Linked DNA regions of Homo sapiens. The protein of the gene in region 1 purifies or fractionates together with the protein of each later gene. This does not show direct contact. Each region holds a gene or a part of one and is shown in the gene's direction. Other genes may lie near its edges.

Region 1 (3,500 bases):
CTGTTTTCACTGTTTCCTGAGCTATGGCTTGTTCATTCTTCTATATGAACTTGAATATCAACTTGTCTAGCTCCTTAAAAACAGTATTGATATTTTTACTGAGATTGTGACAATGTATAAATTAACTATATCTTTGTGTTGTTGTCTTATCCAAGAACAAGGGATGACTTCTTGTTCCAATGTACTTTTGGGTCTTGCAGGAGGGTTTTAAATTTTTCTTCATCTACATTTTGCATGTGACTTAAGTTTATTCCTAAGTGTTTGATCATCTTTGTCGCTATTGTAAATGGGGTTTTCCCTATCATTATATCCTTTTTTTCCCCCCAACTCTCAGGGTATTAATTATTCAGTGCTATTTATTTTTTATTTCAGTAGGTTTTTGGAGAACAGGTGGTGGTTGGATACGTGAATAAGTCCTTTAGTGGTGTCATTATATCGTTTCACTGCATATTGTCAGTGCATTTGAAGGCAGTGGATTTCTGCAAACTTTTGTTTTTTTTTTGATACGGGAGTTTCGCTCTTGTTGCTCAGGCTGGAGTGCAATGAAGCGATCTTGCCTCACCGCAACCTCTTCCTCCCAGGTTCAAGCAATTTTGCCTCAGCCTCCCAGGTAGCTGGGATTACAGGCGTGCACCACCATGCCCGGCTAATTTTTTGTATTTTCAGTAGAGATGGGGTTTCTCCATGTTGGTCAGGCTGGTCTAGAACTCGCAACCTCAGGTGATCCACCCATCTCAGCCTCCCAAAGTGCTGGGATTACAGGTGTGAGCCACTGCACTCAGCCCTGCAAACTAATTTTATATTCTGCTACCTTACAGAATTCTTACATTGTTCAGGTTAGTTTTGTTATTGATTCTTTAGGGCTTTACAGGTGTACTAACATATAATCTTTAAGTATCGATGGATACACTGCTTCCTGCTGATTCTCATGACTCTGACTTTGTTGAATTGCACCGTTCTTTTGTTTAGTTGCTAACACCTCTAGCTCATTGTTCAACATAGTGGAGATAGTGAGCCTCCTTACCTTGGTCCTGATCTTAGTGGAAATGCCACGTTACATGAGAGGCTGACTGTAAAAGGGAAGGCATATGTTATTTTAGCTTATTAACAAAGTATTCCTCAGTTCTTCTATTCCTGAGTGGTGTTTTACAGGAGTAACTATTGAATTGTGTTCCCATATCTTTGGAGACGATGGTGAATTTTCATATGGTAGATTGTCTTCATGAACCTCCTAATAATGAATCAACCTTACATTCTTGGCATAAATCCCACATGTTGTACTATTTTAATGTGTTTTTGAATTCTGTTTATTAATATTTAGTATTTTTCTATGGATATTCAGTCATAAGTGATACTGGTCTATAGTTTTCTTTCTTCTTTTTTTTTGTTTTTGAAATGGAGTCTTGCTCTGTTGCCCAGGCTGGACTGGAGTGGCGAGATCTCAGCTCACTGCAACCTCCGCAACCTCCGCCTCCTGAGTTCAAGCAATTCTTCTGCCTCAGCCTCCCGAGTAGCTGGGATCACAGGCGTGCACCACTACACCCAGCTAATTTTTGTATTTTTAGTAGAGACGGGGTTTCACCATGTTGGCCAGGCTGGTCTCGAACTCCTGATCTCCAGTGATCCGCCTGCCTCAGCCTCCCAAAGTGCTGGGATTACAGGCGTGAGCCACCGCTCCCGGCGTGGTCTATACTTTTCTATTTTTGTTCTGTCTATCAGGTATGGGTATCAGTGTTTACTTCATAAAAATAATTTGGAAGTTTTCCTTCCTTTTTTGTGTTCTAGGACAATACACGTAGCATTAGTGCTACCTGGTCTTAGAAGTTTTGATAGAATCCTCCCATGAAACCATCTGGTCTCTTTCTGTGAGGTGGTTCCTCGATAACAGTTTTTCTATTTCTTCTATAGAGATTGGCCTCCTCATACTTTCTTTTCTTATGGGGTCAGTTTTGGTAAATTATATTTTCCTGAGAGATCACTTCATCTAGGATTTCAGACTTATCTGCAGAGGTCTACAAGATAATATTTTCTCCCTTTTTTTTTTTTTTTTTTTGAGACAGAGTTTCACTCTTGTTCCCCAGGCTGGAGTGCAGTGGCTCGATCTTGACTCACCGCAACCTCTGCCTCCCGGGTTCAAGTGATTCTCCTGCCTCAGCGTCCCAAGTAGATGGGATTACAGGCATGCGCTACCATGCCTGGATAATTTTATGTTTTTAGTAGAGACAGGGTTTCTCCATGTTGGCCGGGCTGGTCTCAAACTCCCGACCTCAGGTGGTCTGCCCACCTGGGCCTCCCAAAGTACTGGGATTATAGGTGTGAGCCACCGCACCCGGCCAATTTTTTTCTCCTTTTAAAATATTCTGTTTCAGGGCCAGGCGCGGTGGCTTATGCCTATAATCTCAGCACTTTGGAAGGCCGAGTTGGGCGGATCACCTGAGGTCGGGAGTTCGAGACCAGCCTGATCAGTATGGAGAAACCCCATCTCTACTAAAAATATAAAATTAGCTGGGCGTAGTGGTGCATGCCTGTAATCCCAGCTACTCGGGAGGCTGAGGTGGGAGAATCCCTTGAACCCGGGAGGCAGAGGTTGAGGTGAGCCGAGATCGTGCCATTGCAGTCCAGCCTAGGCAACAAGAGCGAAACTCTGTCTCAAAAAAAAAAAAAAAAAAAAAATTCTGTTTCAGGCTGGGTGCAGTGGCTCATGCCTGTAATCTCAGCACTTTGGGAGGCTGAGGCGTGTGGATCACTTGAGGTCAGGAGTTCAAGACCAGCCTGGCCAACATGGTGAAACCCCGTCTCCACTAAAAATACAAAAATAAGCCAATGTGGTGGTGTGCGCCAGCTACTCTGGAGGCTGAGGCAGGAGAATCACTTGAACCCGGGAGGGGGAGATTGCAGTAAGCCAAAATCACGCCACTGCACTCCAGCTTGGCGACAGAGCGAGACTCCATCTCAAAGAAAAGTAAATAGATAAAATAAAACAAAATAAAATACTCTGTTTCAGTGGTTATTTTCTCCTGTTATTATCTTTTTTTGGCATGGAAAATATTGATTTATTTTTTGTGACAGGGTCTTGCTTTGTCACCCAGGCTGGAGTCCAGTGACCCAATCTCGACTCAATGCAACCTCCGCCTCCCAGGCTCAAAACGATCCTTCTACCTCAGCTCTACGAGTAGCTAGGACTGTAGGTGCACCCTACCACGCCCAGCTTACGTTTGTATTTTTTGTAGAGAGGTGGTTTTGCCATGTTGACCAGGCTGGTCTCAAGAGTCCTGAGCTCAAGCAATCCACCCGCCTCAGCCTCCCAAAGTGCTGGGACTACAGGCATGAGCTACTGCACCTGACCTGGAAAATATTTATCTCATTTTTAATTGACACAAAATAACTACATATTTATGGGGTACAGTGTGTGATGTTTTGATACATGTATACACTGTGTAATGATCAAATTAAGGTGATTAGCTTATCCATCACCTCAAACATTTATCATTTCGAGGTGA
Region 2 (3,500 bases), on another chromosome or scaffold:
GGCCTGGAGTTCGTGACCAGCCTGGACAACATAGCAAGACCCTGTCTGTCTCTACAAAACATTTTTAAAAATTAGCCAGGTATGGTGGCACATGCCTGTAGTGCCACTAATTCAGGAAGCCAAGGTGAGAGGATCCTTGAGCCCAGGAGGTGGAGGCTGTAGTGAGCTGGGATGATACCACTGCATGCCAGCCTGGGTGACGGAGCAAGACTCTGACTCAAAAAACAGAAAGGAAAAAAAAAAACTTTATATAATGTAGCTAAACTTAATATCTATAAGGGCAGTTTATGCTTTAAAATCTATCTTCAGAAAAGAACCAATGAATGATACACATGTCTGAATGTCTAATGCTTTAACTCTCTGCTTTGGATTCTCATCATTTCATTTTAGGAGCTGCTTCCTTTGGTGCTGATGTTTGAGCTACCAATTGCTGGAATTCTTCAACCGGTTCCTGATCCTAATTCCCCCTCTATTCAGCATATATCACAAACGTACAATATTTCAGTATCATTTAAACAGCGTTCCCGAATGTATGGTGCTACTGTCATAGTACGAGGGTCTCAGAATAACACTAGTGCTGTGAAGGTAAATTATTCAGATAATTCTGCACATCCTATATGTACAAGTTACATGAGTTTCATTTTTAAAGAATATTAGACTAATTTGATTTCCAGAATTTTCCTTCGTTCTACATTTTGGTTTGCAGAATATGCTGTATTTTTCCATAGCTGTTAGAAATGCAATAGAATCTTTCCCCGTATATGAACAGTTAATGTATAGGATTATTTCTTTCCCACCCTTTTCTCTTAGGAAGGAACTGCCATGCTGTTAGAACATCTTGCTGGGAGCTTAGCATCAGCTATTCCTGTGAGCACACAACTAGATATTGCAGCTCAACATCATCTCTTTATGATGGGTCGAAATGGGAGCAACATCAAACATATCATGCAGAGAACAGGTGCTCAGATCCACTTTCCTGATCCCAGTAATCCACAAAAGAAATCTACCGTCTACCTCCAGGGCACCATTGAGTCTGTCTGTCTTGCAAGGCAATATCTCATGGTAAGGTTACTGAAATAAGTGTTACAATTTTTTTAAACCTCTTTGGATTCAGTGCATGTTTTTCCATCCACTGTACTAATGTGATATTTAGGAAAGCACTTCGGAAGCCTCGTCAAATAAGGAAGTTTCTTGCTAAAAGGAAATAAACTGGAAGAGTAATAAGGTTCATAGTGCCTCAACAGGTTTAATTTCATTGCATATGTAATTTTATTTCAGTGTTTTCTTTTTAACTTAGACTAAACACAGAAGAGAATTATAGTGAAATAATTGACTGCATTTTGTGGCAAGGATGGAAGGTGACTGTTTTCATCTGACCTGTAATATTAGTGTGCAGTTTGTATTTGGCAAAAAAAAAAAAAGTCCTCTGTTTAAACAGAAAAGTAAAAATACTATTTAAATTTCACCATCAAAGACAAATTTTGTCAGCCCAAAACATTTGTACATTTCATAAATCTTTGATCCAATTAAAAAATACTATTTAAGTCACAAATTCGAGCGTCACTTATTGAAGGAAGAAAAGCAAAGTTATATATTATAATTCAATACTACTTTACTACTTCTAATTTATAATTGCAATATTTCTATCCTTCCCATATTTGTTTAAAACCCCTCGGCCAGGTGCGGTACCTCATGCCTGTAATCCCAGCACTTTGGGAGGCCAAGGTGGGCAGATCACTTGAGGTCAAAATCAAGACCAGCCTGGCCAACATAGTGAAACCCCATTTCTACTAAAAATATAAAAATTAGCCAATGCGGTGGCAGGTGCCTGTAATCCCAGTTACTCAGGAGGCTGAGGGAGGAGAATTGCTTGAACCCAGAAAGCAGAGGTTGCAGTAAGCCCAGATGGCACCACTGCACTGCATTTCAAAAATGAAATAAATGAAATGGAATGAAATAAACTATCCCAGTGTATGGGTTGATAATGTAGTAACAAAATGGATGGACATGATGCTGGGCTTACAAATATTTGTATTAAAAACACCATTGTATTCTCTCATTCAGTGCTTGACCTTTAGTGGCATTTGAATCAGTAAGCCTCAGGTGTGACATTTACTATTATTAACTTGCAGAGTTTATTTTTGAGAAACTTTCAGAAAATCTAAGTTTTTATTGTTGATTCCATTCCTCTGACAGACAAGAACTTGTTGGAATCAGTAAGATTGTAATCCACGATTTTAAGAAATTTGTCATGATTTTTTTTAGCCGAGCTTATTTTATCAGGTTATTTTTAATATACTGTACTACAAGTCAGATTTATATTTATATCCAAGAATTGTTGTAATCTTCATTTTTTTTCTGCTTTACAAGTTCTTTAGATGTTATTTTTTAGTTTAGTGAAATTTTTCAAATATTCTCTACAGTTATTAATGCACATTTATACTTTGACCATACCTGCCAAAAATAATGACTCATATTATTGCACAACATTGAAATAACTGAAGGAGAAATTAAAAGGCTTTAACCCGTATTTTAAATACCATCACCATTTTGTATAGCACTATTCTTATAAAAATCACTTCCTGGCTGGGCGCGGTGGCTTACACCTGTAATCCCAACACTTTGGGAGGCCGAGGCAGGCGTATCACAAGGTCAGGAGTTCAAGACCAGCCTGGCCAATATGGTGAAACCCCATCTCTACTAAAAATACACAGAAAAGTTAGCCGGGCATAGTGGTGAAGGTCTGTAATCCCAGCTACTCAAGAGGCTGAGACAGGAGAATTGCTCAAACCGCGGAGGTGGAGGTTGCGGTGAGCCGAGATCGCGCCACTGCACTCCAGCCTGGGTGACAGAGCAAGACTCCGTTTAAAAAAAAAAATCAATTTCTTCCACAGGAGAAATGGAGCATAGTATTTTATTTCTTTTTCTTTTTTTAGTTTAGGTGAGGTCTTACTCTGTTGCTCAGGCTGGAGTGTAGTAGTGTGTTCTCAGCTCACTGCAATCTCTGCCTCCTGGGTTGAAGTGATTCTCATGCCTCAGCCTCCCGAGTAGCTGAGATTACAGTCATATGCCACCATGCCTGGCTAATTTTTTTAGTTTTAGTAGAGATGGGGTTTCACTATGTTGGCCAGGCTGATCTTGCACTCTTGGCCTCAAGTGATCCACCCACCTAAGCCTCCCAAAGTGCTGGGATTACAGGCATGAGCCATGGTTCCCGGCTTAGTAATTCATTTTAATCCTAGTGTGCTTAATGGTAACCTCTCCTGATATCCATTTACAAATTCCAGCACCCAGTGGGCTAACACTGGAAATTCTGTGCATCAGAGAAAGTATATTACATTGTTCCTAGACTCAGTAGATCAGAGGCTGTGAGTAGAGCATTAGAGAAAAAAAAAAAATCTAAAAAATGAGGTAGTTAAAAGAAGGGACAGTAGTAACAATTTACTCCAGGAAGGAGGAAAGGTTTAAACTGCATTAGGTTAAGTAGGATTTATATTGGT
Region 3 (4,179 bases), on another chromosome or scaffold:
CGCCACCCGGTCTAGGAAGTGAGGAGCGTCTCTTCCCGGCCGCCCATCGTCTGGGATGTGGGGAGCGCCTCTGCCCCGCCGCGACCCCGTCTGGGAACTGAGGAGTGTCTCTGCCCCGCCGCCACCCTGTCTGGGAGGTGAGGATCGTCTCTGACTGGCCGCCCCGTCTGAGAAGTGAGGAGCCACTCTGCCCGGCAGCCGCCCCGTCCGGGAGATGAGGAGCGTCTCCTCCCGGCAGCCGCCCCGTCCAGGAGGTGGGGGGAAAGCCCCCGACCGGCCAGCCGCCCCGTCTGGGAGGTGGGGGGCAGCCCCCTCCCAGCCGCCGCCCTGTCTGGGAGGTGGGGGGGGGGGGCGCCTCTGCCCGGCTGCCCCATTTGGGAAGTGAGGAGCCCCTCTGCCCCGCCGCCACCCCATCTGGGAGGTGTACCCAATAGCTCATTGAGAACGGGCCATGATGACGATGGCGGTTTTGTCGAATAGAAAAGGGGGAAATGTGGGGAAAAGAAAGAGAGATCAGATTGTTACTGTGTCTGTGTAGAAAGAAGTAGACATAGGAGACTCCATTTTGTTCTGTACTAAGAAAAATTCTTTTGCCTTGGGATGCTGTTAATCTATAACCTTACCCCCAACCCCGTGCTCTCTGAAACATGTGCTGTGTCCACTAAGGGTTAAATGGAAAAAAAAAAAAAGGAGGACAGGAACTATGTGTCTAGTTCATTATCTCCATTTCCTGGTACCATGCCTAGCAGGTGGTAGACTTCACTCAATAAATATCTGGTGAATCAGTGTCTTTCTGGAAATTTATACATAACTCCTTGAATGAGGCAACATGCTTCTGCACTATTTAATAAGAAAAACTAAGTCAAGTTTCTAATCTGTGGTTTTGTTTTGCTTTGAGAACAGGGTCTTGGCTATGTTGCCCTGTCTGGTCTCGAACTTCTGATCTCGAGCGATCACTCCCACCTCTCCCTTCCTAAGTGTTGGGATTAACAGGAGTGAGCCACCGCGCCCGGCCAAGTCTCCAACTTGCTCGAGGTCACTGAACTTGCAATTGAAGAAGCTACGATTCGAACCCATGTCTGTAGGATCCCAGAGCCCTCATTGTCAAATACATACTGAAGTTTCCCAGTTTTCGGGAACCCCGCAGTACAAGGTGACCGAGGACAATACCAGAAATGGGAGCCCCAGACCCCACGTAGCGGCGAAGTTCCCAGAAGGCACAGCGCTCGGGGGTGTGGCCAGACGCATGGGCGGTGCCAAGCGTAGGAAGATGGTTGGGAACTGCGTCTCCCCCAAGGCTCCGCAGGGCGCCGCTGACTGGCGGAAGCGAGGGCGGGGACAGCGGAATGACGTTTTAAGGACGCTTGCGCGCGGGATTTAAACTGCGGCGGTTTACGCGGCGTTAAGACTTCGTAGGGTTAGCGAAATTGAGGTTTCTTGGTATTGCGCGTTTCTCTTCCTTGCTGACTCTCCGAATGGCCATGGACTCGTCGCTTCAGGCCCGCCTGTTTCCCGGTCTCGCTATCAAGATCCAACGCAGTAATGGTGAGGAGCGGGGTCCCTAGGTCAAGGGGACTCGTGAGCGGTGAGACGACTGAAATTACTGCCCGTCCCCGGACACACAGATGGGCTTTCACTCTCTTTCTCTCCCTCCCTCCTTTTCACACGCACTCACTCCGGGTCTCTGCACTGGCAGTCATTCTTGCCTACACAGGGGTGAGAGTCCCTGCGCTGTACGTGGTCCCTTTCGCAGTCCTCTGGGAGTGGGCGGACCTTCTCCAAGGCTGGTAGACCTCCCAGGGAAGTTGGGACTTCTAAATTCACTTCCCTTCCAAAATTCTCCCCTGAAAATGCCCTGCTCTTATGGGGACCTCGGTCTCCTGGCCCCTTTACTCTCGAATAAATATTGCGCAGTTGCGGTATGTCAGGTAAACGGGACAGACAAGAACCCTGCGCTTGAGGAGCTTGTAGTCGTTCTCTCTTTTGCTTAAGCAGGTACCGCAGTTCTGGCAGGTCTGATACCCGTGTCATTAGGGAAATGGACAGATATGACCGCCAGAAATGAGTTAGGAAAACCCCAAAAGGGCCAGATCCTCAATGCTATGTTGAGGAAAAGTTCATCTAAGGGTTGTGGGGAATCCTGTGCTCAAACATACCTTTTGTATGTTCTCTTTTGTAGGCTCTATCTCTCTTTTTTTGTAGGCTCTCTTGAGTAGGGGTGAATCCTTATCCCATGCAGCTCAGTTTAAAAACCTGTCCCCAGCCCACCTCACTGTGGATATTCTAAAGGTGAAGCCCAGGAGATTTATTTGTTTCTCTTAGTTTTTTTTTTTTTTTTTTTTAAGGTAGCTGCCTGTTCCTTCAGGTTAACTCCACTTTGGGAATCTCTGTGGAATCCTAAAAGTGAAGCTCTCAGGAAAGAGATGGGTAACTCTGGTTTTTTCATACTTTATAGGTTTAATTCACAGTGCCAATGTAAGGACTGTGAACTTGGAGAAATCCTGTGTTTCAGTGGAATGGGCAGAAGGAGGTGCCACAAAGGGCAAAGAGGTAGGTTCTATGAGAATTCCTCTACCACATTTAATGTCTTCCTACATAAAGGATCTGTGCAGAAGTGGAATCTGTGAGAGCCTAGTTTCTGATGCTGTGCTCTTCTCACTCACGCCTGTAATCCCAGAACTTTGGGAGGCTGAGACGGGCAGATCACCTGATGTCAGGAGTTCGAGACCATCCTGGCCAACATGGCGAAACCTGTCTCTACTGAAAATACAAAAATTAGCCAGTCGTGGTAGTGCATGCCTGTAATCCCAACTACTTGGGAGCCTGAGGCAGGAGAACTGCTTGAACCTGGGAGGCGGAGGTTGCAGTGAGCCGAAACTGTGCCGCTGCACTCCAGCCTGGGTGACAGTGAGAATCTGTCTCAAAAAAAAAAAAAAAAAAAAATTGGCTGGGTGCGGTGGCTCTTGCCTCTAATCCCGACACTTTGAGAGGCCTGGTCTGGAGGATTGCTTGAGCTCAGGAGTTCGAGACCAGCCTGGGAAAAATGTTGAGACCTTGTCTCTACAAAAAAATTAAAAATTATCAGGGTGTGGTGGCTCACGCCTGTGGTTCCAGCTACTCGGGAAGCTGAGGTGGGAGGATTGATTTAGCCTGGGAGGTTGAGGCTGCACTGAACCATGATCGAGCCACTGCACTCTGGCCTGGGCGACAGAGTGAGACCTTTCCTCAAAAAATAAAAATGGTCTTCTTGGCTGGGCACAGTGGCTCACATGTATAATCCCAGCACTTTGGGAGGCCGAGGTGGGCAGATCGCTTTGAGCTCAGCAGTTCAAGACCAGGCTGGGCAACATGACAAAACCTCATTTCTACAAAAAATACAAAAAACATTAGCCGGGCATGGTGGTGCATGCCTGTGGTCCCAGCTGCTCTGGAGGCTGAGGCTGGAGAATTGCTGGAGTCTGGGAAAGCACAGGTTTCAGTGAGCTGAAATTGCACCACTGCTCTCCAGCCTCCTGGGCAACAGAATGAGGACTTGTCTCAAAAAAAAAAAAAAAAAAAAAAAGAATGGTCCCCTTCCAGATGCATTGGGATTTTATTTAGTCAGGTCCATTCTAAATTGAAGCAATCAATAATTTTCTGGGTTTTTTTTGTTTGTTTGTTTGTTTGTTTTGAGACAGAGTCTCACTCTGTCACCCAGGCTGGAGTGCAGTGGCGAGATCTCAGCTCACTGCAAGCTCCGCCTCCCGGGTTCACGTCATTCTCCTGCCTCAGCCTCCCGAGTAACTGGTACTACAGGTGCCCGCCACTACGCCCGGCTAATTTTTTGTATTTTTAGTAGAGATGGGGTTTCACTGTGTTAGCCGGGATGGTCTCGATCTCCTGACCTCGTGATCCGCCTGCCTCTGCCTCCCAAAGTGCTGGGATTACAGGCGTGAGCCACCATGCCCGGCTCTGGTATGTTTGTAGAAAGCAAACTGCAGCCAGGCGCAGTGGCTCATGCCTGTAATCCCAGCACTTTGGGAGGCCGAGGTGGGCGGATCACTTGAGATCAGGAGTTTGAGACCAGCCTGGCCAACATAGCGAAACCCCCATCTCTACTAAAAATACAAAAATTAGCTGGGTGTGGTGGCACGGGCCTGTAATCCCAGCTACTTGGGAAGCTGGGGCAGGAGGATCACA
Region 4 (4,118 bases), on another chromosome or scaffold:
AAATACCAACCTTGCCTTTGGTCCCGTGCTGGGTGCTACAAGTTAGGTGGTAGGAAGAAAGGGAGGAGAGAAAACTCTATATGAGATCAAGTAGGTTCTGCCCTCAAGGGGTTAATAGTCTCCAAGAGGAAGATGTAAATAAATAACCGTAATTGAAAGTAAGAATCATTCAGTGCCAAAAAGAGTGGGAGGAAGAGGTTGCTGGGCGGGGCGGGGCGGGGGTGGGGGGTTGGGGGGGGTGTTGGGGGGTGAGGGGAGGGGTGGTGGCGAGGGTGGCAGGGGTTGGGGGGGCGGTTAGGATGCAGGGAGAACTTGAAGGAGAGGCAGGCATTCAAATTAGATTTTCCCCCAGTTTAGCATTAACTCTGGCCCCAGTTGCAGTCCATGAATGTGGAAGGGCCCTCCCCTGCCAGGCGCTGAAATTGTGCACGAGCTATTTTTTTTTTCTTGGCTAACAGCTTTCCTCTCACGGTTAATGACTAATCCCAAGGAGCATTAGCTCACTCTGTAAATATGAAATTATAATATAGCAAAATATAACGCTAAAAGCCATCAATCTAATTTTAGTCGCAAAGTTGAAATTTCATAGCAATAGCATTAAAAGAGTTACATTGTTACGATTTCAGTCAACATATAAATGAAATAAAATTGTTCTGGCCTGGCGCGGTGGCTCAGGCCTGTAATCCTAGCACTTCGGGAGGCCGAGGCTGGCGGATCACCTGAGTTCAGGATTTCGAGACCAGTCTGGCCAACATGGTGAAACCCTGTCTCTACTAAAAATACAAAAATTAGCCGGGCGTAGTGGCAGACGCCTGTAATCCCAGCTACTCCGGAGGCTGAGGCGGGAGAATCGCTGGAACCTGGGAGGCAGAGGCTGCAGTGAGCTGAGATCGCGCCACTGCACTCCAGCCTGGGCGACAGAGCGAGGCTCCATCTAAAAAAAAAAATTGTTCTACTTTAAGAAACCTAAAATGACGGCTTAATGGCAGAGTAGTATTACGATATAAAGCATTTAAAATGAACAGAACATGCAGATCTTACTTTTTTTTTTCTTTTCTTTTTTTTTTAGTGTATTGTTGCTCACAGCGAGACAGAGTGTTCTGCTACCCACAGGGCCAGGGCCTCACACAAACCAGCGGGCTCTCCAGGGTGCGCGCGCGATCTACAACCCGCCCCTTGAAAAGGAAAGCGGGGCCCGGGACGCTGCGGGTGTGAGCCGGACCGGCTTAGAGAGGGAAAGTAACCCGAGTCCGCCGCTTCGGGCGGACCCGCCCCCTCCCACGAGTTTCCCTAGACCCTCGGCCCCGCCCTCTCTTTTATTCGGTTTGCAGCAACCGGAGCTGAAACTTTGCAACCCGAGCGCGCACGCTCTGCGCTCGGCCCTGCCAGGGCGGCACGGGAGGGCGGCGCAGGAGGTGGGACCTGCGCCGGGAAGGCTCCGGGACGCCAGCGCACGCGGAGCGGGGACCCCGGAGAGCCAGCAGGCGAGAAGACCGGCCGAGGGAGAGCCGATCGCGCCTCGAGAGATCCGAGGAAGTGGTCGCGGGCCGGGAGGCTCCCGTGCCGAGCCGAGGCCAGGGGTCTGGGGTCGCAGCCCGGCGTGCCTGCAGCTGCCGTCGCTCGGGAGCAGCAGCTGTGCCCGGGATCCCGGCGGCGGCGGGGGAAGGAGGAGCTGCAGCTGGACTGTGGCAGCTGGAGGGAGAGGGCCGGGCTCCCCTGGCGGAGCCGCGCTGGGACGACTGGCTGACCGCGGCCATGCAGTCTTGACGGAGTCGCTCGGGCGCAGGGGAGCAGCCGCGGGCGCGCCCTCCCGGGAAGGGGCACCGGAGCGCAGGCAGCAGCACTTTATCTGCGACTCTCCAGCCCAGCGAGAGGCGAAGCGGTTTACCATGGAACCCGTGACCAAGTGGAGCCCCAAACAAGTGGTGGACTGGACTAGAGGTGCGCGGGCCTTGGGGGGGTCCGGAGTCCTCCAGCCTCGGGGATGGGGCGGACGAGGAGCTGGGGAAGAGGGTACTTGGCCCTTCCTCCCGGCGAGAAGCGGTGAGGGCACAGCCCGGTGACAATGCAAACTTCTGCCGAGTGGCCTGTGCGCTCCTATCTCTCGTACCTGCTCCGAGCTCTTCCTTTCCAGGGTGCGGATTGTGGCAAGCCGAGGGGAGCCCTATCTTTAAACCAGGGAGTAGGGGTGGCCTTTCTGTGGCGGTTGAGGGCTGGGGATGCCGATCTCGGGACTCGGCACTCGGGCCGGGGGGCGCTCTCCCTGCCTGGCCCCGGTGCGGTGCCCGGCGACCCGGGGGCCCGAGTGCAGAGGCACAAGGTGCCTTTGTGTGGGTGACTCCCGCGGGACCTCGTCCATGCCGCCTGCCCAGAGCCGTCCGCAGGCGTGACAGGGCTGTCGGACAGGTAGAGGGAGACTCCGGCGGGTCCGCCGAGCCTGTCTGTTTTTGTTGGAGAAGGCGAGAGGGCCGCGCAAAAGCCAACACCATAGCATTTGCGCCAGGGAGAAACCTCGAGCCAGGACTCCCCGGGAGGCAGTGACTTTTGCTCCGGGAGGCGCCAGTATCCCCGGTGGCGCTGCATTTTCAGGCCACATGTAAGCACTGGGAAGGAGAAATATAATTGTTTGGAACCACTGTCTTGATTCATACAATATTTGGGATGAGGAAGGCAGTGGGGCTGGGGCGGTGGGGGGGTGGTGGGGGGAATGAGCAGAGGTAGAAGCTTGTCCTCCTAGCTGGCTCGCTTACTTTTCAATGTCTCCTACGATTTCGAGGGAAAGGTACTAGAGTTTACTCAACCCTTTTCTGTACTTTCAAGAGAACAAAGTCCACCAAGAACAATCTGTATTTTCATGGTTTCCCCCCACCCCCAACGACATCTCTGTTTCAAGTTACTATTTGTTTTTCTATCTGCTCTTCCAGGTGAGGAATGGTGTTCTTTCTCAGTAATAACTAGAATTGTGTAGCGCTTTACAGTTTGCTAAGAGCTCTCTCTGTTATTGTCCTTGGTCATCACAGTAAGCCTGTGAGGTAGGTAATACTGGTAAGACCAGGTCGTCTTTCAAACCGTCCCACCCATGGCTGCAGCATAATGAAAACTGATCACCGCTACATCTCATTTCTCACGCCTGTGACTTACACATAGACCACGTGGAATAGGATGTCCGAGGTGTGTGGGGTGTGTCAGTGGGTATGTCTGACCATTTCCTGCTCCTCTGGGAGAACTCCTTGAGAACGGGTTTGTCAAGTGAGCAGAATTTCCTGGACTCCTATATAAAATGAAGCTAAAAACAACACATGTTTCTGCCTTGGTGACTAGGTTTCCCTTGGTAAAGAGTAAGTGGCATTGCCAGTACTTGGTAGGAAGCATGAGCTTAAAAGCCATCCATGCCCACGCTAGCTTGAAATGAGGTGTGTTCCTCCATTCAAGATGCTGCCAAATTCCCTAGGCTGGCAGCTTCCTGAAACTGAGTTGATATGTATTTTATCTGTATGTCCCTCATAGAGCCAACTTGAGACACTGCAAATTTCAGCTACTGTTGACTTCTAGAGCCGCTCTGTCCAACTTAGTAACCAGTACCACTTGTGGCTCTGCAGCCCTTGAAATGTGGCTGGTTAGAATTGCAATGTGCTGTAAGTCTAAAATACACATGGCATTTGAAGACTTGGTATGAAAAAAAAGAACATGAAATATCTTAATACTTTTTATTACATGTGGAAATGATAGTATTTTGATACGTTAGGTTAAATAAAATATATTACTAAAATAAGCTTCACCTGTTTATTTTTACCTTCTTACATATGTCTCCTAGAAAATCTAAAATAACACAGGGCTCACATTTGTGGCTTCCATTATATTTCTATTGGACAGTTCTGCTGTAGCAGAAAGAAAGGGTTACATCTTATCACCCTGGCTTTTCTGAGCCTCTGCCAGCTTAGTTGATAATGTACAATCAGAAAAATGGTAACAGGCGCACAGGAAGATTATGGAGTGAGATCTTCACACCCTCAAGATTTGTGTCTGGTTTTGTTGTTGTTGTTGTTGTTGTTTTTGTCCCTCTTGGGATTGGAAAAGGAGAAGCGTAAAATCACATCCTGTTATGTTTGTTGAGTATT

What was found.
Region 2: the proteins of ANKS3 (region 1) and BICC1 purify together in Homo sapiens (affinity purification with mass spectrometry; one large-scale study listed by BioGRID and IntAct). This does not show direct contact.
Region 3: the proteins of ANKS3 (region 1) and KIF2C purify together in Homo sapiens (affinity purification with mass spectrometry; one large-scale study listed by BioGRID and IntAct). This does not show direct contact.
Region 4: the proteins of ANKS3 (region 1) and CNKSR3 purify together in Homo sapiens (affinity purification with mass spectrometry; one large-scale study listed by BioGRID and IntAct). This does not show direct contact.

The regions. Positions count from the first base shown.
Region 1 is NC_000016.10:4,710,272-4,713,771, reverse strand, and holds part of ANKS3 (ankyrin repeat and SAM domain-containing protein 3), read left to right. Parts: intron 1-3,500. UniProt on the Homo sapiens protein: May be involved in vasopressin signaling in the kidney.
Region 2 is NC_000010.11:58,788,872-58,792,371, forward strand, and holds part of BICC1 (protein bicaudal C homolog 1), read left to right. Parts: intron 1-390; coding exon 391-585; intron 586-810; coding exon 811-1,062; intron 1,063-3,500. UniProt on the Homo sapiens protein: Putative RNA-binding protein. Acts as a negative regulator of Wnt signaling. May be involved in regulating gene expression during embryonic development.
Region 3 is NC_000001.11:44,738,458-44,742,636, forward strand, and holds the start of KIF2C (kinesin-like protein KIF2C), read left to right. Parts: upstream 1-1,379; 5' UTR 1,380-1,475; coding exon 1,476-1,545; coding exon of another isoform or gene 1,546-1,585; intron 1,586-2,455; coding exon 2,456-2,550; intron 2,551-4,179. UniProt on the Homo sapiens protein: In complex with KIF18B, constitutes the major microtubule plus-end depolymerizing activity in mitotic cells. Regulates the turnover of microtubules at the kinetochore and functions in chromosome segregation during mitosis.
Region 4 is NC_000006.12:154,507,886-154,512,003, reverse strand, and holds the start of CNKSR3 (connector enhancer of kinase suppressor of ras 3), read left to right. Parts: upstream 1-1,318; 5' UTR 1,319-1,889; coding exon 1,890-1,941; exon of another isoform or gene 1,942-2,065; coding exon of another isoform or gene 2,066-2,135; intron 2,136-4,118. UniProt on the Homo sapiens protein: Involved in transepithelial sodium transport. Regulates aldosterone-induced and epithelial sodium channel (ENaC)-mediated sodium transport through regulation of ENaC cell surface expression.